Linked DNA regions of Homo sapiens. The protein of the gene in region 1 purifies or fractionates together with the protein of each later gene. This does not show direct contact. Each region holds a gene or a part of one and is shown in the gene's direction. Other genes may lie near its edges. The genes, in order: DNAJB14, TTC1, UQCRC2, DNAJC7, DNMT1 and GRPEL1.

Region 1 (3,500 bases):
TTTAAAATATTGAAATCATACAAGTATGTTCACTAACCACAGTGGAATCAAAGTGGAAATCAGTTACACAAAGGTAATAGGAAAACGTCCAGTCCTTGGAAACTGAACAACAAATTTCTAAGTATCCATGGGTCAAACAGGAAATATCAAAACAAATTTGAAAAAACATATTGATCTAACTTGGCCAGGCACAGTGGCTCACGCCTGTGATCCCAGCACTTTGGGAGGCCGAGGTGGGTGGATCGCAAGGTCAGGAATTTGAGACCATCTTGGCTAACACGATGAAACCCCATCTCTACTAAAAATACAAAAAAGTAGCCGGGCGTGGTGGCGGGCGCCTGTGGTCCCAGCTACTCGGGAGGCTGAGGCAGGAGAATGGCATGAACCTGGGAGGCGGAGCTCGCAGTGAACTAACTAAAAATGAAAATACAACAATTAAAATTTGAGAAGACCAGCTAAAGGAATGCTGAGAGGAAACTTGTAACATGAAATGCATATGTTAGAAAAGAAGAACAGCCTCAAATCAGTTATCTATGCTTCTACCTTACAAATCTAGAAAAAGAATAGCAAAATAAACTCAAAGCAAGCAAAAGAAATTATAAGAGTAGAAATCAGTACAATTGAAAAGAGTAACAATAGTGAATATCAATGAAACAGAGCTGGTTCTCTGAAAAAAATCAATAAAATTGAAAGACTGACCAAAAAAAGAAGACAGAAATGACCATTGTCAGAAATGGTGTCAGAGACAAGGATATCACTGCAGACATCAAACGGATAATAAGAGAATACTATGAACAATTCCATATACATAAGTTTACAAGTTAGATGAGATGGGCCAGTTAGTTGAAAAATACAAATCATCACAACTCAGTCTGACATAGATAACGTGAATAGCCCTGTAGAAATTGCTGTGGTTTGGGTATATTGAAATTTTTTAATTTTTATTTTTATTTTTTATTTTATATATATATTTTTATTATCCTTTAAGTTCTAGGGTACATGTGCACAACGTGCAGGTTTGTTACATATGTATACATGTGCCATGTTGGTGTGCTGCATCCGTTAACTCGTCATTTACATAAGGTATTTCTCCTAATGCTATCCCTCGCCACTCCCCCCACCCCACAACAGGCCCCAGTGTGTGATGTTCCCCTTCCTGCGTCCAAGGGTTCTCATTGTTCAATTCCCACCTATGAGTAAGAACATGCGGTGTTTGGTTTTTTGTCCTTGCGATAGTTTGCTGAGAATGATGGTTTCCAGCCTCATCCATGTCCCTAGAAAGGACATGAACTCATCATTTTTATGGCTGCATAGTATTCCATGGTGTATATGTGCCACATTTTCTTAATGCAGTCTATCATTGTTGGACATTTGGGTTGGTTCAGTATATTGAAATTTGATCCTCAATGTGGCAGTGTTGGGAGGTGTAGCCTAGTGGGAAGTGTTTGTGTTATGGGGGCAGATCCCTCATGAATGTCTTGCTGCTGTTCTCACAGTAGTAAGTTCTTGCTCTCTTGAGGCTAGATTAGTTCTTGAAGGAATTGATTATTTCCCGAATGAGTGGGTTGTTATAAAGCCAGGACACCCCTCAGGTTTTCCCCTCTTTGCACCTGTCTGCTTCCCCTTTGATTTTCTCCACCATGTTATGCAGCACAAAAGCCCTCACCAGAAGCCAAGGCTATGCCCACAAACTTTTCAGCCTATAGAACCATAAGCTAGTCTCAGGTATTTTTCTATAGCAACACAAAATGGACTAAGACAGAACTGTTCAGTGAATTAAAGTTGTAATTATGAAATTCCCAAAAAAGAAATATCCAGGCTCAGATGCTCTTATTGAAGAAGTCTACCAAACTTTTTAAGGAAGAATTAAAACTAATTCTACATAATCTCTTCCAGAAAATAGAAGAGGAAGAGACATTTTCCAGTTAATGTTAAGAAATGTTTTACCTTGCTTATATCAAAACCAAAGACATTACAGAAAAAAAAAAAAAAAAAAACTACAGACCAGTATACTTTGTGGGATAAACCCAAATGTCCTTAACAAAATATCAGAATTTTGCAGTATATAAAAAGAATTATATACCCCAAACAATAGAAGTTTATTTCAAGGTAGCAAAGTCAATTCACTATTTGAAGATCAATAAGTGTAATCCACCACATTAATTAAAGAAAAAAAATCCCACGATTATATTAATCAGTGGAATAAAAGCATTTGATACATTTCACCACCCATTCATGATAAAAACTGTCAGAAAAATAGCAATAGAAGGGACCTGCCTCAACTTGATAAAGAGCAACTACAGAACTCCTGTAAGCTAACATTAAATGGTGAAAGACTGAATGCTTTTCCCCTATGATCAAGAATAAAGCAAGAATATCTCTTTACCACTCATATTCAACAAAGTGCAGGAAGTAGTAATCACTGCGTTAAAGAGAGAAAAAGGAAATAAAAGGCATACAGACTGGAAAAGAAGAGCTAAAACTGTTGTTATGTGCAAATGACATGATTATCTATGTAGAAATCCAAGGAATCTACAGAAAAAACTGTGACTACAAAGCAAATCCCGTAAGATTGCAGGACACAATATAAATCTACAAAAAATTAATTGCATTTCTATTTACTAGCAATGAATATTTAGACACTAAAATTAATAATACATTAGCATTTACAATCATACATACAAAAAAATACTTAGGTGTAAGTTTAATAAAACTTTTATCACATTTATATACTGAAAGCTATACAATATTGATTAAAGAAATCAGAAAATAGCTAAATAAATGGACTGAAATATCATGTTCATGGATGGGAAGATTCAACATAGTAAAGATGTCAAGTCGGCTGGGCACGGTGACTCACACCTGTAATCCCAGCACTTTGGGAGGCCGAGGTGGGCAGATCACCTGAGATCGGGAGCTTTAGACCAGCCTGACCAACATGGAGAAACCCCATCTCTACTAAAAGTACAACATTAGCGAGGCGTGGTGGCGCATGCCTGTAATCCCAGCTACTCAGGAGGCTGAGGTAGGAGAATCACTTGAACCTGGGAGGTGGAGGTTGCAATGAGCCGAGATCGCGCCGTTGCGCTCCAGCCAGGACAACAAGAGCAAAACTCTGTCTTAAAAAAAAAAAAAAGTCAAGTCATCACAGATTGATATACAGATTTAACACAATTCCTGTCAAAATCCTAGCAGGATTTGTTTTGTAGATAGAAACAAGTTTTATTCTAAAATTCATATGAGGGGAAGAAAGAACCTGAATATTTAAAAACATTTATTTCTGTTAAAAGAATGTAGTTGGAGTAATCAGTGTTCCTGATTTCAGGATTTACTGTATAGATAAACAGTAAACAAAACTGCGTGGTAATGGCAGAGAGATACACACATAGATCAATAGAACGAGATAGGAAACCCAGAAATAGACTGATACCAATATAGCCAACTGTTTTTTGACAAAGATGCAAAAGCAGTTCGATGGAGGAAAGATAGCCTTTTCAACA
Region 2 (3,500 bases), on another chromosome or scaffold:
TAGTATCAGGAATAAAATCAAAATGACCATTCATCCTTTCTCTTATCCTCAGATTATATAGAAGCTGAAAGTTCTTATAGTCGAGCCCTCGAAATGTGCCCATCCTGCTTCCAAAAGGAGAGGTCGATTCTATTTTCAAATAGAGCTGCAGCAAGGATGAAACAGGTATGTATCTGTGACCTTTTCTTTTTAAAAAGCACATGGACTTGCAGTCTTTTCATACCATAGTTTCTCTCCAGAAACTAGCATAGAGGTTGCTGCCTCCCTTTTCCTGCCCATATATTTCCCTGATGTAAAGGCCACAGGGAGAATAGAAAATCTTTTGAAAAACTTGAGTCAGATTACTGTTAACATTCCCCATTAAAGTAGCTGAGTGAATACTTTCATGGAAGGAGGGCTGGCAAATTTTTTGCTAAACTAGGTCAGGTTAATGAAGCAATGAGCCAAGCAGTGCATGTCCTAGAATAGCTCTAGATCCTTATTTTAGGCCTCTGGAATTCTAGATAAACATGCAAAGGCACAGGGAAACACTGGTAAAAACTCTGGGCTTTAAAGCATCTTTAAAGATGGTTATTCCCAGGATTCTGACTTTTCTGTTCAAAGTATGGACACTTGGAGAAATCTCCAACAGCTGGGATAAAAGGTACCCTTAAATGCAAAATAGGTGTCAAGGAACTTTGAAAACATTTTGTATTTCCAAAGGACTGAGAACCTAGTATAACAAGGTGAGTATGGAATAGGTGAGAGTACAAATATATTTGTTTTATACCATGACCTTATTAAAAGTTAGATTTGGGCCAGATGCAGTGGCTCACACCCGTAAACCCAGCACTATGGGTGGCCGAGGCGGGCACATCACCTGAGATCAGGAGTTCGAGACCAGCCTGGCCAACATGGTCAAACCCCATCTCTACTAAAAATACAAAAATTAGCCAGGCATGGTGGTGGGCACCTGTAATCCCATCTACTCAAGAAGCTGAGGCAGGAGAGTCGCTGAAGCCTGGAGGCAGAGGTTGCAGTGCACTGCACTCTGGCCTGGGCGACAAGAGCAAAACTCTGTCTCAAAAAAAAAGTTAGATTTGTTTCTGATTTGTCTGATTTTCCGATTTAGTCTTCATAATCCTTGGATTGAAATGAGAGTGGTTTTTTTTTTTTTTAAACCATACCACTTTTTAAACTATGGCTACTTACATCCAAAGTACAAAGGATAGGTTATTTAACATACCTTTAAGCAACCATGATGCTGGCTCAAGATTGGAAGTGGCAGTGTTTTCATTTGTTTGTTTAGATCAGATATCTCTTTGATACTGTCTGAAATTCTCAAATGCCTCTACCACAGTCACTTTAGGTGACAAGGTTTTTTTTGTTGTTGTTGTTTTTTTTAAAGGCCCCAGGGCAGGGTTGCGGGGGTGGGTGCTTGAATGCTTGGACATGCAGAAAGGTTACGGTTTTTTTTTTTTACCAGAACTTGTGTAAGATTCAATCTTCAAAGCAGAGTATTTTTGGAGTATTTCATGTGGCATGAGAGAAGAAATAATTTTATAGTATACAAACCAACATTTTGTATTAGAGAAAACAAAACAATTGGTTTAACTTTATTTAAAACAATATTCATTAATGTGTCCCACCAGCAATCAGAATTAACATCTAACAGTTTTTACACTTACCTGGAAAATTCTGATCTTTTAGATTTGCTTCTCCCTTTTGCCACATTTTTAGACTGGACATTGTCATTGTGAAATAGGATCAAGGATGTGCCTTCAGTATCAGAGGAAATGCACCATACCCAGTTGGCTCCTGGGATTTGGGATTCTTTGTTTCTACAGTTGCCCAAGTTATTGATATTTCTAGGTTTGGGCTCACATAAATAGTCTGGTTCTTGAGTTAGGAAAATGTATGGTCTTGTTAGTATTTTGTCTGTCACATCTGAGGAGAACTCAAAAGAGCGTTGCTCTATGATTGTTGCCTGTTCAAAGAATAGTTTTGTTGGTGAAGTTTTCTGTTCTTTTAAGTTGCGTTTCTTTTTTTTTTTTTTTTTTTTTGAGACGGAGTCTCACTCTGTCACCTAGGCTGGAGTGCAGTGGTGTGATCTCGGCTCACTGCAACCTCCGCCTCCCGTGTTCAAGCGATTCTCCTGCCTCAGCCTCCTGAGTAGCTGGGATTACAAGTGCGCGCCACCACGCCAGGCTAATTTTTGTATTTTTAGTAGAGACAGAGTTTCACCATGTTGGTCAAGCTGGTCTCAAACTCCTGACCTCGTGATCCGCCCACCTCAGCTTCCCAAAGTGCTGGGATTACAGGCGTGAGCCGCCGTCCCCGGCCTTAAGTTGCATTTTTAATACTTTATGAAGACTCTAAAATGAGAGACTTGATAACTTCTAGGATTAGTACCCTGACACAATTTAAGGAGCATATTATATTCTAAGTTTTTCAAGGAAATGATGGTTTAACTGCTTTAAGAGGTAAAGATGAAGAATTTCTGAAAGGCAGGTTTGCAAGCTCAGCATCCCTGACTCAGTGCCCCTGGCCACGCTTCACATTTCATATCTGGAGAGAGAAAAGGTAACCTGGAGCTAGGGCAGAGTTTCAGCTCTAGGTCTCGCTAGCTATACAAGAGCAGAGCCCTAAAAGAGTAGGTTCTCTTTTTTTTTTTTTTTTTAACTACTGTCCTTATATATTATATACATTGTTTTATATGTATAGTTAGATTTGTTTGTCCTTATATGCTGTGTACATTTGTTTTGTCACTATATATTATGTATACTGTTTTATATAGATAGATAGCTACCTATATATAAAAATTATGAAAGAATGGTAAAGTTGTGATTTTTTTTTTTTTCCCACACACTCCACTTTGGGGACTACCATTGTAAGCAGCAGACAACACCTGGGTCCTCTGAGGTATTAGTAGACTATGAGCCTCAAACAAAAGTTTCTGCAATAAAATTCCATAATTCCTTGATTTGAGGAGACAGTGGATAAGATGCACTACAGCTTAATAATCACTTCTAGGCACACAAAGAATACCATCACAACAGTTGTACACATAAATTGTAAAGATTTATTTCTATTTCAGAAACTGTGAAATTGTGTGTCTTTGACTTATAGAAATGTGATAAGTTGAAAAAATATTGACTTATATAAAGTTATACAGATTACTTACAGGACTTCTTAGAGTTTTTGATATTTGAATTGGTATGCTGAACATTGAAAGAGAAATAAAAAAAGGTCCCAGATGACCCTGAAACCTTTTTTGTTTTGTTTATTGTGGTAAAATACAGATAACATAAAGTTGGCCATTTTAAAGTACAGTCATGAGTCACTTAACAACGGGTATACATTCTGAGAAATGTGTTATTAGGTGATTTCATCATTGTGCAAACATCATAGAGTATACTTACACAAATCTGGATGGTATGGCCTACTACACACCTAAGCTATATGGTATAACCTATTGCTCCTGGGCTACAAACCTGTACAGCATGTTTCTGCACTGAATT
Region 3 (3,500 bases), on another chromosome or scaffold:
TGCCAGACTGTTTTCCAAAGTAGCTGCACCATTTTACATTCCCACCAGCAATGCACAAAGGTTTTGATTTCTCCACATCCTCACCAACACTTATCGTCTGTCTTTCTGATTATGAACAACCTACTGGGTGGGAAGTGGTCATTGTAGTTTTGATTTGTATTTCCCTAATGACAAATGACATTGAACATATTTTCATGTGCTTTTTGTCCATTTGTATAACTTTTTTTGTTTGTTTGTTTTTTTGAGACAGAGGCTTGCTCTGTTGCCCAGGCTGGAGTGCAGTGGCGCAATCTCAGCTCACTGCAACCTCCACTTCCCAGGTTCAAGCAATTCTCCGGCCTCAGCCTCCCGAGTAGCTGGGATTACAGGTGCATGCCACCATTCCTGGCTAATTTTTGTAATTTTAATAGAGATGGGGTTTCACCATGTTGGCTGGACTGGTCTCGAACTCCTGAGCTCAGGTGATCCACTTGCCTCGGCCTCCCAAACTGTTGGGATTACAGATGTGAGCCACCGTGCCCAGTCAACTTTGGAGAAATGTCTATTCAAGTCTTTGCCCATTTTTAAGTTTTTTTTTTTAATTGTTGAGTTGTAAAGGTTCTTTATATATTTTGGTTACTCAAGCTGTTAGCAGATATATTATCTGCAAATATTTTCCTGCATTTCATGGGTCCTCTTTTTACTTTCTTGATACAGTGTTCTTTGATGGACAATGCAATGTTGTTTTAAGAGCTAACTATTAGAAACATGCTAGCGTCCATTAGGAGGGGATTGATCAAATAAATGGTGGTAGAGCCATAGAAAGGGATTCTTTATAACCATTAAATATTTGATGTAGACTACTCACTTAGAAATTTGTAAATTATGAAAGATAAGTTAGAAACAATATCAATAGAATGATACCATTTTAGAAATAAATTGAAGATAATATTAACTACACAGAAAATTCTAGATGAATAGTAATACTAAGTATATAGTAAATAGTTTAGTAATAGTAAACTGTAATTGGGTATCTCTGGGAGAGTGGCATTATGGCAGGAAGACTCTTATTTATTTTGTAGTGTTAGGATTTTACAATCGTATTTTTAAAACAAGGAAAAAATATTTTACGATTGTGTTTTAGTAATTGTGGTTCTAGCTTTGTTTTTGCTTCTGTTGAAACAGGTGTGAGTCATCCTGTTCTAAAGCAAGTTGCTGAACAGTTTCTCAACATGAGGGGTGGGCTTGGTTTATCTGGTGCAAAGGCCAACTACCGTGGAGGTAAGCATTTCATTCTATTAGGGTTAATTTATCAGAAGGGCGTTTCCCCACTAGAATAGCATATTGAGGTGGAATAGGCCTGAATATTTACTACTGAACAGTCTCGGCATAGAATTGGATGGCTTGGGTGTTGTATTTTGAGCATATGTTTTGTGTGTGTTTGGGGACAGGATGGCATGGGGAAAGCACCGAGCTGCAGAAAAGACTCGTGGGTTAATACTGTGTTGTAGGAAATACTGGAGAATGAAACCAATGGTGAACAAGCCATTTTCTTCTTCCCTCTATCCTTAATCTGGCCCCAGGTGAAATCCGAGAACAGAATGGAGACAGTCTTGTCCATGCTGCTTTTGTAGCAGAAAGTGCTGTCGCGGGAAGTGCAGAGGCAAATGCATTTAGTGTTCTTCAGCATGTCCTCGGTGCTGGGCCACATGTCAAGAGGGGCAGCAACACCACCAGCCATCTGCACCAGGCTGTTGCCAAGGCAACTCAGCAGCCATTTGATGTGAGTCTGAACAGTTGGTATCTCTCTTTTTGCTTTCAAAGGCTCAGTATTTAAGATATAATTCTGATAATCTACTCTTAAAATGTAAGACAAACACACAGAAAATCTTTGTACAATTGAAGAGATAGCCAGGCTTGATTTTAGTATCTTTGAAGGCCTATCAAAAACTCACTGGCTTTTCCACTTTGTCTATTACTTGTCATTAGTAATATAAAAAGAGGAATTGAATGCTTAGAAATAAAGGGAATCCACACATCCGTTCCCTTTAGAATAAAGTTGTAGATATTAAACTTTCCCCTAGATTCTAACTAGTCTTTTTTTCTAGATTTTCTTCTGTCCGCTTCTGTTCTTTTGGTTACTTCCTGAATCTCACTATTTGTTTTCCAACCAAGTGGACAAGATGAACACCAAGAAATTGTTTACAGACTCACTCATTCAGCTTGAGATTAAATTTGAAAAGAAAAATGAGAGGCTGGGCACAGTGGCTCACAACTAAAATCCCAGCACTCTGAGAGGCCGAGGTGGGCGGATCACTGGAGGTCAGGAGTTCGAGACCAGCCTGGCCAACGTGGTGAAACCCCCATCTCTCCTAATCCAATGAAGTAATTTAATAGAAATTCCTAGTTCAGAACTCAGCCAGAAATTTAGAGTATAAATAGGATGGCCTCAGAATTATAATTAAAGAAATTGAAGTCCAGGCCAGGCACAGTGGCTCACGCCTGTAATCCCAGCACTTTGGGAGGCCAAGTTGGGCGGATCACAAGGTCAGGAGATCAAGACCATCCTGGCTAACACAGTGAAACCCTGTCTCTACTAAAAATACAAAAATTGTCTGGGCGTGGTGGCGCACGCCTGTAGTCCCAGCTACTTGGGAGGCTGAGGCAGAAGAATCACTTGAACCCAGGAGGCGGAGGATTCAGTAAGCTGAGATCGTGCCACTGCACTCCAGCCTGGGTGACAGAGCAAGACTCTGTCTCAAAAATATATATAAATAAATAAATAAAAGAAATTGAAGTGCCTTCTTATGCTTTACGTGGACTGAGCCAATGGTTCTCCAAGTTTATTGTACATAAGAATTACCTGGAACACTTGTTAAAAATCTGGGCTTCCAGGCTGCATCCACAGGGACCTGAGTCAGTAGGTCCATTTTGGGAATCTGAAAGTTTGTATTTTTAATAAGAACTTAGATAATTTTTATGTAAATGGTCCACATAAACACTGCAAATCGGGTTCACCCTAGAGAGCTAAAAGCTCTGCTCAAACTAGATAACAATATCCCTGTTATTCAGAGGTTAAACTCTTGATAGCTTGGACATCTGGATAATGACCACTAAGCAGAAATTTTTCTCTAACTTTCTGACATGAGTGTATAAGAGAAATGAAAGTAAATTGGTGAAAAAGTCCCTACCAACAGCAGAGAGAAGAAACCTGGTCTGCCTAATGCCAAAGCCTATCTATATTATAATAATAATGTTTGCAGATTAGTGTTTGCATAAACCTTTAATCATCTAAAGCAGGTTAGAAAATACCCAGCATAAAGGAAAGGGAGCAGTCATTTTAGAAATATTTAAATGAAAAAACAAAGCCGTGATAGTTCTGAAAGAGGTAACCTATTTACAGAATACTTCAGTTCGTGACAGAACTGGCTAAGTAAAATATTAATCTATTTTGTTTATACCGTGAAGGTCCAAGTTTTTTCTAGGCAAACTTAAAGAAATCGTGCCCTGTTTTACTTGGT
Region 4 (3,500 bases), on another chromosome or scaffold:
TTGCCCAGGCTGGAGTGCAGTGGCGGGATCTCGGCTCACTGCAAGCTCCGCCTCCTGGGTTCATGCCATTCTCCTGCCTCAGCCTCCTGAGTAGCTGGGACTACAGGCGGCCACCACCACGCCCAGCTAATTTTTTGTGTTTTTAGTAGAGACAGGGTTTCACCGTGTTAGCCAGGATGGTCTTGATCTCCTGACCTTGTGATCCTCCCGCCTTGGCCTCCCAAAGTGCTGGGATTACAGGCGTGAGCCACCACGCCTGGCCTCAGTAAATGTTTTGATAAGAGGATACATTAAGAATCATTCACATTGACTGATGGTCTTTTATTTGGTAATGTATATATCTGATTAGCTTATGCAGAGTCCCGGCAGTAACTTATTAGCATCCCTCTTCTGTCCATTGGTTTTAATAACCACAGTTGTCTTTGTAATGTAATTCATAAGTTTGTTTTGTTTGGCATGTGTGTGTTTGGAAAGCAATTCTGCCTACTGTCAGTTTTCTGAGGTTTACATAGGCAAAAGCTTTGTCTTGAGAGGTGGTCTTTTGGGTTTCTTTTCTCTCTTGCCTACTCCAGAGCCAGAATCCTGAGTTTGTGACAGAATCCTCTGTTTGTGACATCCCAGCCCCCCCACTGTAGCTCACGGTGATGTCACAAATGAAGAATTATGATCCTGGCAGGGGAAACAGATGAACTTGGAAGAAACAAAAGATCTTCTTTGCCTGCAGCTGTCCCTAGTCATGGGGAGGTTGGGGGGTGGGAAGTGAAGCACTGACGATCCCCATGATTAGCAGAACCAGCTCTGCATAAAACGGGGTCCTTGTGAAGGCAACAGGGTGTGGCTGCTGACATTTTGACTGACTTTTTCCTGCCCCCTCATTCCTTTTCCATCTGGGGGGGCAGGACAGTTAGCACAACTCTACCTACATAATGCTTAAGTTTTCATATTGTCCTTAGAACTTTCAGGACATGCCGAGTGCGGTGGCTCATGGCTGTAATCCCAGCACTTTGGGAGGCCGAGGTGGGCGGATCACCTGAGGTCGGGAGTTAGAGACCAGCCTGACCAACATGGAGAAACCCTGTCTTTACTAAAAATACAAAAAATTAGCCAGGCCTGGTGGCGCATGTCTGTAATCCCAGCTACTCAGAGGGCAAAGGCAGGAGAATTGCTTGAACCCGGGAGGCAGAGGTTGCAGTGAGCCAAGATCATGCCATTGCACTGCAGCCTGGGCAACAAGAACGAAACTCCATCTCAAAAAAAACAAAAAACAAAAAAACAGAAAACTTTCAGGACAGTAAACCTGTGCCACTGAAGGAGAGGCATTCCTGTCACTGCTGTGTGACACTGCAGAAAGTCTTCTCAGTGAAACAGCTGGTAATGTGGTAGTGTTTACTGACTTGCTCATATTTTAAATTTCAGTTTTGGAATAGGTGCTATTCATGGTTCAAAAACTAGAAAGTGTTGCCAGATGCAGTGGCTTATGCTTGTAATCCCAGCACTTTGGGAGGCCAAGGCAGGAGGATCACTTGAGGCGAGGAGTTCGAGACCAACCTGGGCAACTTATTGAGACCCTGTCTCTACAGATAATTTAAAATTTTAGCTGAGTGTGGTGACGTGTGCCTGCAGTCCCAACTACTCATGAGGCTGAGGCAGGAGAATCACTGGAGTCTGGGAAGTCGAGGCTGCAGTGAGCCATGATTGTGCCACTGATACTCCAGCCTGAACAGCAGAGCAAGACCCCATCTCAAAAACAAAACAAACAAAAGTTAGAAAGTATGAAAAATATTCAGTGATGAGTGTCCCCTCAAACTTGTCCTCTCTCCGCCCAGTTCTCACTCCCCTAAGCTAACCACTGTTCTTATGTCTTCTATTTTCTTCCTTAGTTTTGTTGTACTTATATAAAATAAAGATCCTTGATTTTCTCCCTTTATTTAGCGTGAAAGGTAGTATGCTTTATGGCAGGTCTGCACCTTTAAAAAAAAATCACTGAGTAGCTCTTGGAAGTCTTTCCATATTAGTACATGAAGAGCTTCTTCATTCTATTTTAGAACTATATAGTATTCCATTATATGAATGTCCATGTTAACTAACCAGTCTCCTGTGGATGGAATTTGAATTTTTCTGCTTGTAAGTTTTCAGAGTTTATCTCTTCCTGACCCCCATGGCCAAATTCTTAGAGGGAATAGGTGTCCCTTAACTCCAGATTTGTCCTTCGGTTCATTTATTCTCGGCGTGAATGTGATTCAGCAAGGCTCTCCCAGGAATAAATAGCAGCTAAACCAAAACTGAAAGCTCAGAGGACAAACTAGTAAAAAGAGAAAAACAGAATATATGGAGATGCTTTATGAGGCTGAAAGAGTAAATTAATCCCCACCTTTTTGTGTGTGTGATTGCTCCTTGGCTTGTGGTTTGTATAGTGGCATGTTGGGAATAGTAATCTGATGTAGCCTATTTAGAGCCATTTAAAATAACTATTTTAAGGCTGGGTGTGGTGGCTCACGCCTGTAATCCTAGCACTTCGGGAGGCTGAGGAGGACGGATCACGAGGATCAAGACCATCATGGCTAACATGGTGAAACCCTGTGTTTACTAAAAATACAAAAAAAAATTAGCTTGGGCGTGGTGGCGGGCGCCTGTAGTCCCAGCTACTCGGGAGGCTGAGGCAGGAGAATGGCGTGAACCCAGGAGGCAGAGGTGGCAGTGAGCCAAGATCCTGCCACTGCACTCCAGCCTGGGTGACAGAGTGAGACTCCATCTCAAAAAAAAAAAAAAAAGTGATAATATTGCCTATTTCATAAAATTCTTGTGAGGATTAAATGGGTTCATATATGAAAGTACCCAGTAAATGTTTACTGTCCTCATTATCATCTGGAGCCTTTGCTGTCCTCATTTCAGTGCTTTTATTTAATGAATTAGGTATGTTTTTAAACTTTGATATTACTTAGAAGTGGACCCAAAGACCTCATTGAGTTTTGAGTCTGTTACCTGTGACTAAACTAAAGTGAAGATGTTTCTGGAGTCCCTGATGAAGAGCCTTATTTGTTTTCTTCTTCCCTACAGGTTGTTTTCTGCATGGACCGTGCCCTAGAATTTGCCCCTGCCTGCCATCGCTTCAAAATCCTCAAGGCAGAATGTTTAGCAATGCTGGGTCGTTATCCAGAAGCACAGTCTGTGGCTAGGTATGCAGTCAGGCTAGCTGGACATTAAAATGCCAGATACCATTGGACTGATGGTGTCCGGCAGCTTCACCACAGGATATGGTCCCCAGAGTAGGCCAGCTAGGGCTGATCAGACCCTCTTGGGACTTAAAGTCAAAGATTAGACCAGCTTTGAAAACCCGTAGGGTATACAGGAGTATAGTAGTATAGCAGGTACTTGAGCTATATATGAAAGAACAGATTGTGTTTTTGTGGTTTTGTTTGTTTGTTTAAGGTAGTCCTTTTCCTTCTACTCCACTGGTTGGCACACTTTCTGCAAAGGGCCAGATTTTAGCCTTTGCAGGC
Region 5 (3,500 bases), on another chromosome or scaffold:
GCTACTCGGGAGGCTGAGGCAGGATAATCGCTTGAACCCAGGAGCCGAGATTGCACCGTTGCACTCCAGCCTGGGCAACAGGAGCGAAACTCTGTCTCAGAAAAAAAAAAAATTTTTTTTTTTAGAGATGAGGGTCTTGCTTTGTTGCCCAGGCTGGTCTTGAACTCCTGGACTGAAGCAATCCTCTGCGTTGGCCTCCCAAAGGGCTGAGATTACAGGCGTGAGCCACAGGGCCCGGCCATTATTCCTCAAGAGTTCTTAAAAGTGGATGCTGCAGGAGTTAACTGCCAGGAAGCAGGAATTCCTGCTAAGGTCTGCTGCTTGCCAAAGCCTTTCCCTTCAACAGGGGTTGCCAGTAGGCCACTGGCTCAGGGGCTCTGTTGGCCCTGTGCAAATATTTTGTTTGGCTGAATTGGAATACCATTAGGTGAGCCTTACAATCCACCACTGACCCTGGGTTCCACATTTCTTTACACTCAGATTGCTTCACTGTAGGCATTGGAGTTTTGGAGGACTGCTTTTGACCATGTGGTAGACATTGAAATTGTAGTTTATATGACTCACTCCACAGACTTTTTTTTTTTTTTTTACATTTTGAAAATATTTCATTAAATGAAAAATAAACATGGTATCCAACAGTACTTGAAACTTAGATTTTTTTTTTTTTTTAATTGAGGCAGGGTCTTGCTCTGTGGCCCAGGCTAGAGTGCAATGGTGTGATCTCAGCTCACTGCAGCCTCCGCTTCCCGGGTTTAAGCAATTCTCCTGTCTCAGCTTCCCAAGTAGCTGGGATTACAGGTGTGCACCACCACGCCCAGCTAATTTTTCTTTTTCCCCCTCGAGGCTGAGCCTTGCTCTGTCGCCCAGGCTGGAGTGCAGTGGCCGTGATCTCGGCTCACTGCAACCTCCACCTCCCGAGTTCAAGCAATTCTCCTACTTCAGTGTCCCAAGTAGCTGGGATTACAGGCGCCCGCCACCAAGCCCAGGTAATTTTTGTATTTTTATTAGAGACTGGGTTTTGCCATGTTGACCAGGCTGGTTTCAAACTCTTGATCTCAAGTGATCCACTTATCTTAGCCTCCCAAAATGCTGGGATTACAGGTATGATGGTGTCCAGCCGGTTCATTGTTTTTATTTTATTTTATTTTATTTTATTTTATTTTATTTTATTTTATTTTATTTTATTTTTGAGACAGAGTCTTGTGCTGTCGCCCAGGCTGGAGTGCAGTGGTGCGAACTTGGCTCACTGCAACCTCCCCCTCCCGGGTTCAAGTGATTCTCCTGCCTTAGCCTCCTGAGTAGCTGGGATTACAGGCATGTGCCACCACGCCCGGCTAACTTTTTCTTATTTTTAGTAGAAACCGGGGTTTACCGTGTTGGCCAGGCTGGTGTTGAACTCCTGGACTCAAGTGATTCGCCTGCCTCAGCCCCGCAAAGTGTTGGGATTACAGGCATGAGCCACCGTGCCTGGCCTTTTAATTCATTCTTAAGCCTGCTCTCAGACAGCTAGGCTTGCTTCTCCACAATAAAGAGTGTTGAATTTTGTCGGTGTATCCCGCATGGTGCCATTATAACACTGAAATTAGTGATTATTTCAGGGTCTGTTACCAGAGCGTGTCTGCCGTATTCACTGTATCTGCAGCTTGGAGCACAGTAGACTCAAATGCTTGCATGCCAGCTCTTCCCCTGTACAGCCTGGATTAACACTGATGCTAGCAGACTCCTTTGCACAACTGATTAGCTTTCGTAACTACCACAGCTTTCTTACTGCTAGTCATTCTGTGATGGGATTAAGCTAGGTCTTGAACTCCTTAACTCCAGTTCCTTGGCTACTACTGAGTACATACTGAATAAGGCAAAATTGACTTACCTCTTTTGTTTTGCTCCCCTGTGGTAGAATTCTAGGGGTACAGACTGCTGGGTTTCAAATGCCGCCCTACTTGCCAGCCGTATGGCTAAGTTATTGAACTTCTTGGTGCCTTGGTGTTTCATCTATAAAAAGGGGGTGGGGCTGCCTGCTCGACAGGGGTGTTAGGAAGACTGAGCTTATCAGTACAGATATGTTGAGAGCAGCACCTGTCCAAAGCCCTTCATCACTGGTTATTACGTGGTACTGTGTGTACAGTGGGGATGCTGTGGGTTTGGTTCCAGACCACTGCAGTAAAGTGAATCTAGCAAGAAAGTGAGTCACACACACATTTTGGTTTCCTAGTATGTGTAAAAGTTATTAGACTAGGCCGTGTGCAGTGGCTCATGCCTGTAATCCCAGCAGTTTGGGAGGCCAAGGCAGGAGGATCGCTTGAGCCAAGGAGTTCAAGACTAGTCTGGGCAACATAGGAAGACCCCCCCCATCTCAAAAAAAAAAATAAAGCCAAAAGTGGTGGCATGCACCTGGGGTCCCAGCTACTCGGGAGGCAGAGGTGGGAGGATCACTTGAACCCATGAGGTCGAGGCTGCAGTTTGCCATGATTGTGCCACTGCACTCCAGCCTGGGTGAAGGAGTGAGACTCTGTCTCAAAAAAAAAAAAAAATCAGCTGGGCGTGGTGGCTCACGCCTGTAATCCCAGCACTTTGGGAGGCCAAGGTGGGCAGATCACGAGGTCAGGAGATCGAGACCATCCTGGCTAACACGGTGAAACCCCGTCTCTACTAAAAATACAAAAAAAATTAGCCAGGCATGGTGGCACACGCCTATAGTCCCAGCTCCATGGGAGGCTGAGGCAGGAAAATTGCTTGAACTTGGGAGGCGGAGGTTGCAGTGAGCCGAGATCATGCCACTGAACTCCAGCCTGGGCAACAGAGCGAGACTCCGTCTCAAAAAAAAAAAAAAAATCATCTGAGTCTTCAGCGATTCATAATCTTTTTGCAGGTGGAGGGTCTTGCCTCAAACTTGCCGGCTTAAAGGACATACATTTATTACCTTATGCAGGTCAGAAATCTGATGTGGGTTTCACCGGATGAAAATCAAGGTGTAAGCAGGCTGCATTCCTTTCTGGGGGCTCCAGGGGAGAATCTGTTTCCTATTTTGGGGTGTTGGCAGAAGGTGGTAGTTGTAAGACTCAGGTCCCATTTTCTTCACTGGTTCTAAACTGAGGGTCGTTGCCCGCTTCTGGAGGCGGTCTCATCCCTCGGCTCATGCCCCCTTCCTCTACCTTTAAAGTCAGCATTTGCGGGTTGCATCTCTCTCTGACCCGTCCTCCAACGTTGCCCGCTCTCTGCAGCTAGAAAGGTTCTGTGTTCTTAAGGGCTGAAGTGATTAGATTGGGCCCACCCCAGATAATCCAGGATAATCTCCCCATCTCAAGGTCTGTATTCTTAGTTACATCTGCAAAATCGCTTTGGCCACGTAAAGTAATATATTCACAGGTTCCAGGGATTAGGGCATGAACATTTTTCGGTGGGTCCACTCTTTTTGAGATGGAGTCTCGCTCTGTCACCCAGGCTGGAGTGCAGTGGCATGATCTCGGCTCACTGCAACTTCTGCTTCCTGGGTTCAAATG
Region 6 (3,335 bases), about 93 Mb from region 1:
ATACTGTGGCCTGTTTCTTGGTATTCCGCCTCTCTTTGTGGTAATGTGCTTTGTTGGTTCTTACCCTTTCCGACCTGTAAATGCCTGGGCTCTTGGGACTCAGTACCAGACCTCTTCTCTCCCCTTGCTGTGCTCCCTGGGTGACTTACATACTCTTACGGGCTTAGTGGCATCCACACACAAGTCTCAGCTTCAAACTCGGATCTTCCGAGTTCCAGTCCCCTAAATCTTACTGCTTGCTTGACATCTGGGCTTGGATGTCTCAAGGGTATTTTCCCCTCTACTGCACTCCTTTCTTCACATTTTAGTGAATTCTAAATTTAGTAAATTCTGGGTCTCATCCCACAAGTAGCTTTTGAGAGTTTTGTGTTGTTTTTTAAAGTTATTGAGCCATTGGAATTCTGAGGCGATTGATTTGACAAGTTACTAAATAGCCTCCACATCAGGTCAGCAGTGCTCAGTTTGGAATTGCCCTGTGCGGTTGGTATGGAGTGCAAATGATCTTCTTTAACTTCATCCAGGCATTCAAGCCTTCTGCAAGGACTTGTTGGAGGTGGCAGACGTTCTGGAGAAGGCAACACAGTGTGTTCCAAAAGAAGAAATTAAAGACGATAACCCTCACCTGAAGAACCTCTATGAGGGGCTGGTCATGACTGAAGTCCAGATCCAGAAGGTGTTCACAAAGCATGGCTTGCTCAAGTTGAACCCTGTCGGAGCCAAGTTCGACCCTTATGAACATGAGGCCTTGTTCCACACACCGGTTGAGGGGAAGGAGCCAGGCACAGTGGCCCTAGTTAGCAAAGTGGGGTACAAGCTGCATGGGCGCACTCTGAGACCCGCCCTGGTGGGGGTGGTGAAGGAAGCTTAGCTGCTGTTGATGGGGTGGGTGTTTTTAAACTCACTTGATGTAACTCTCAAGGCTGGTTCATTGTTTCTCATCTATGAGTACGTGTGACCTTTTCCCAAACCTTATTGGAAACCTTAAGTAACCAGTGGCTAAACAGAAAAGCCGGTTGCCCAACTGCATTAATGAACTCTAATTCGGGAGTCTGTTCCCTTTTAGTGCCACGCGTTGAATAGTTCCACATACTTTCAGAAGAGCTCAGCAGGGCCCTGCCTGGTCTCCCGAGCATCATGAGTAACGTGTCTGCTCAGACTCTGCTGACACCAAAGTATTTTAAACAAATAAAAGGTCTTGGGGAATTCTGTTTGGCTACCTGGGCACGCCAGTCTGCACCATGTGTCCCTGCGGCGCATGAGTGACTGGCGTATTTAGCCCGTCACATTTCATTCGCTGAAGGAAAGGCAAGAGAGTTGAAACATTTTTCTTACTTAAAAAAAATGATCTTTGTGAAGAACATAGTGAGTTCGTTTGTCTTCAGTCAACAGCGGCTGAAACTGACCACTGAGAAATGGGTGTGGGCACTGACAGTTCTCCCCCATTATTTGGCCAGGAATTGAGCTTGGCTTGGCAAAGTTCCTTTTACCCTGTTCTGTTCATCTAAATGCAGACATATTTAAATCATATTCAACTAGTTACTAATGACCTCAAGTTGTATTCCCTGGCAAAATGGACTTTCTCAAAATAGGACTGCACGCTTGGTGTACTTTAAATGTTAATGTTTAATTTAAAATTTTTATTTAAGAGGATTAAAGCCCTAATGTTTATTTTCCTACTTTCTGAAAACAATTTTGTGTCCTCTCATGGAGATCCTTGCCGCTGAGGCAAGCATGGCTTAGCCTTCCCATTCTCTACTCCAGCCCAGAAGCTGTCAGCTTGACACGTGCGTGCGTGCACATTCACGTACACACATATACAGGCTTCTACACAGAAAGGGAGAGCCACACTCCCCCAGTGCAGCTGCAGCCCGTCCGGTAAGAATACGAAACACCCAGGAGCCACAGCAAGGGCACAGGATTTGCAAAATCATCTTGCCAAAGGGCTGTTCCTCATTTACACGGTCATCCAGGGCTTAGAAAAAGGCTGAATGATTGGCGTCTGTTACAAAAAAGAGAAAAGAACCTTTCGCTGCCTTTGCTTCTAGAATGGAAGATACTTGTGAAAGCCATTTGCTGCACAGGAAAGATGGGGCAGTTTATTTCACTTCTAATTTTAAAAGACGCAAGTAATGGTCCCATAATACTTCATCTTGGGATACCATTCCCAAACATGTTCCACCTTTAAGATGCCTTAAGTTAATTTGGTCAGAAACAACTAAAGGCAGCATCGTGTATTGAAGAAAACATGACTGGGAGCTCCAGCGCTGCCTGTTTTCACGCTGTGGGGTTGTGAGTGCATCATCACCCCTGGAGCTCCCGAGTTAAATGGAGGCTAAGAAAAGTAATTTATCAACTCATTTCTGTGAATGTTTGCAGTCTCCTACCGTCTCAACTACAGCTGCAGTTGCTAAAAAGCACTTAACTCGTAACCTAGAGGCAATATAGCTTAAGTAGCAAAATATTTTTTTACAGTAAGCTTCAGTCATCCATAGTCACTATAAGTTGGTTATCATCTGAAATGCTTAGAACCAGAATTGTTTCAAACTTGGGGGGTTTTCGGATTTTGGAATATAGTCAAGCATGGCTTAACCACAGGGATGTGTTCTGAGAAATGCGCTGTCAGGCAGTTTTTCCTGTGAACACCATGTGTACCTACATGGACCTAAAAAACAGGTGGTGGAGCCTCCTCCACACCTAGGCTATATGGTGTATGTAGCCTGTTGCTCTAGACTGGAGGGCACGTTACTGTACTGATACTGTAGGCAACTGTTAACACAATGGTATCTGTGTATCTGAACATAACATAGTAAAGGTACAGTGCAAACTGTGTTCTAATATGTGGCCCCTCATTGACTGAAAAGAGATTCTCTGCTTGACTATTTGCATTGTATTTGCTGGTTAAGTATCCCCAATCCCAAAATCCAAAATGCTCTAAATGAGCATCTCCTTTGAGCACCATGTAGGCACTCAGAAAGTTTCAGATTTTGCAGCCTTTCAGATTTGGGGATACTCAACCTGTAATAGGAAAATGTCTTTTAATTATGTGCATATTTACAGTAGGAATTAAAGATTTGTTTAGCTACCTTCTAGTAGTTACTGGATTTAGCATAACTGCAGCATGAGTGAAGTGTCACGTGTGAACAGTGAAAACCAGAACTGGAAGTCTCAGAGGCATCTGAAAAGTCGGCCTGGCTTCCTGAAAGACTCAGACCCATTTGGCTTTCTCTGGCTGTACTGCTGCTTTGAGGGAGGAGAGCACCTGGCACGAAAGGGTCTCTGCTTAAGAGAAAGCAACTTTAGGTCGGGTGCAGTGGCTCACGCCTGTAATCCCAGCA

Evidence for each region.
Region 2: the proteins of DNAJB14 (region 1) and TTC1 purify together in Homo sapiens (affinity purification with mass spectrometry, with the first as the bait; one large-scale study listed by BioGRID). This does not show direct contact.
Region 3: the proteins of DNAJB14 (region 1) and UQCRC2 purify together in Homo sapiens (affinity purification with mass spectrometry, with the first as the bait; one large-scale study listed by BioGRID). This does not show direct contact.
Region 4: the proteins of DNAJB14 (region 1) and DNAJC7 purify together in Homo sapiens (affinity purification with mass spectrometry, with the first as the bait; one large-scale study listed by BioGRID). This does not show direct contact.
Region 5: the proteins of DNAJB14 (region 1) and DNMT1 purify together in Homo sapiens (affinity purification with mass spectrometry, with the first as the bait; one large-scale study listed by BioGRID). This does not show direct contact.
Region 6: the proteins of DNAJB14 (region 1) and GRPEL1 purify together in Homo sapiens (affinity purification with mass spectrometry, with the first as the bait; one large-scale study listed by BioGRID). This does not show direct contact.

The regions. Positions count from the first base shown.
Region 1 is NC_000004.12:99,912,119-99,915,618, reverse strand, and holds part of DNAJB14 (dnaJ homolog subfamily B member 14), read left to right. Parts: intron 1-3,500. UniProt on the Homo sapiens protein: Acts as a co-chaperone with HSPA8/Hsc70; required to promote protein folding and trafficking, prevent aggregation of client proteins, and promote unfolded proteins to endoplasmic reticulum-associated degradation (ERAD) pathway.
Region 2 is NC_000005.10:160,036,639-160,040,138, forward strand, and holds part of TTC1 (tetratricopeptide repeat protein 1), read left to right. Parts: intron 1-52; coding exon 53-165; intron 166-3,500.
Region 3 is NC_000016.10:21,970,361-21,973,860, forward strand, and holds part of UQCRC2 (cytochrome b-c1 complex subunit 2, mitochondrial precursor), read left to right. Parts: intron 1-1,164; coding exon 1,165-1,260; intron 1,261-1,562; coding exon 1,563-1,762; intron 1,763-3,500. UniProt on the Homo sapiens protein: Component of the ubiquinol-cytochrome c oxidoreductase, a multisubunit transmembrane complex that is part of the mitochondrial electron transport chain which drives oxidative phosphorylation.
Region 4 is NC_000017.11:41,989,940-41,993,439, reverse strand, and holds part of DNAJC7 (dnaJ homolog subfamily C member 7), read left to right. Parts: intron 1-3,057; coding exon 3,058-3,176; intron 3,177-3,500. UniProt on the Homo sapiens protein: Acts as a co-chaperone regulating the molecular chaperones HSP70 and HSP90 in folding of steroid receptors, such as the glucocorticoid receptor and the progesterone receptor.
Region 5 is NC_000019.10:10,188,454-10,191,953, reverse strand, and holds part of DNMT1 (DNA (cytosine-5)-methyltransferase 1), read left to right. Parts: intron 1-3,500. UniProt on the Homo sapiens protein: Methylates CpG residues. Preferentially methylates hemimethylated DNA. Associates with DNA replication sites in S phase maintaining the methylation pattern in the newly synthesized strand, that is essential for epigenetic inheritance.
Region 6 is NC_000004.12:7,058,395-7,061,729, reverse strand, and holds the end of GRPEL1 (grpE protein homolog 1, mitochondrial precursor), read left to right. Parts: intron 1-521; coding exon 522-868; 3' UTR 869-2,835; downstream 2,836-3,335. UniProt on the Homo sapiens protein: Essential component of the PAM complex, a complex required for the translocation of transit peptide-containing proteins from the inner membrane into the mitochondrial matrix in an ATP-dependent manner.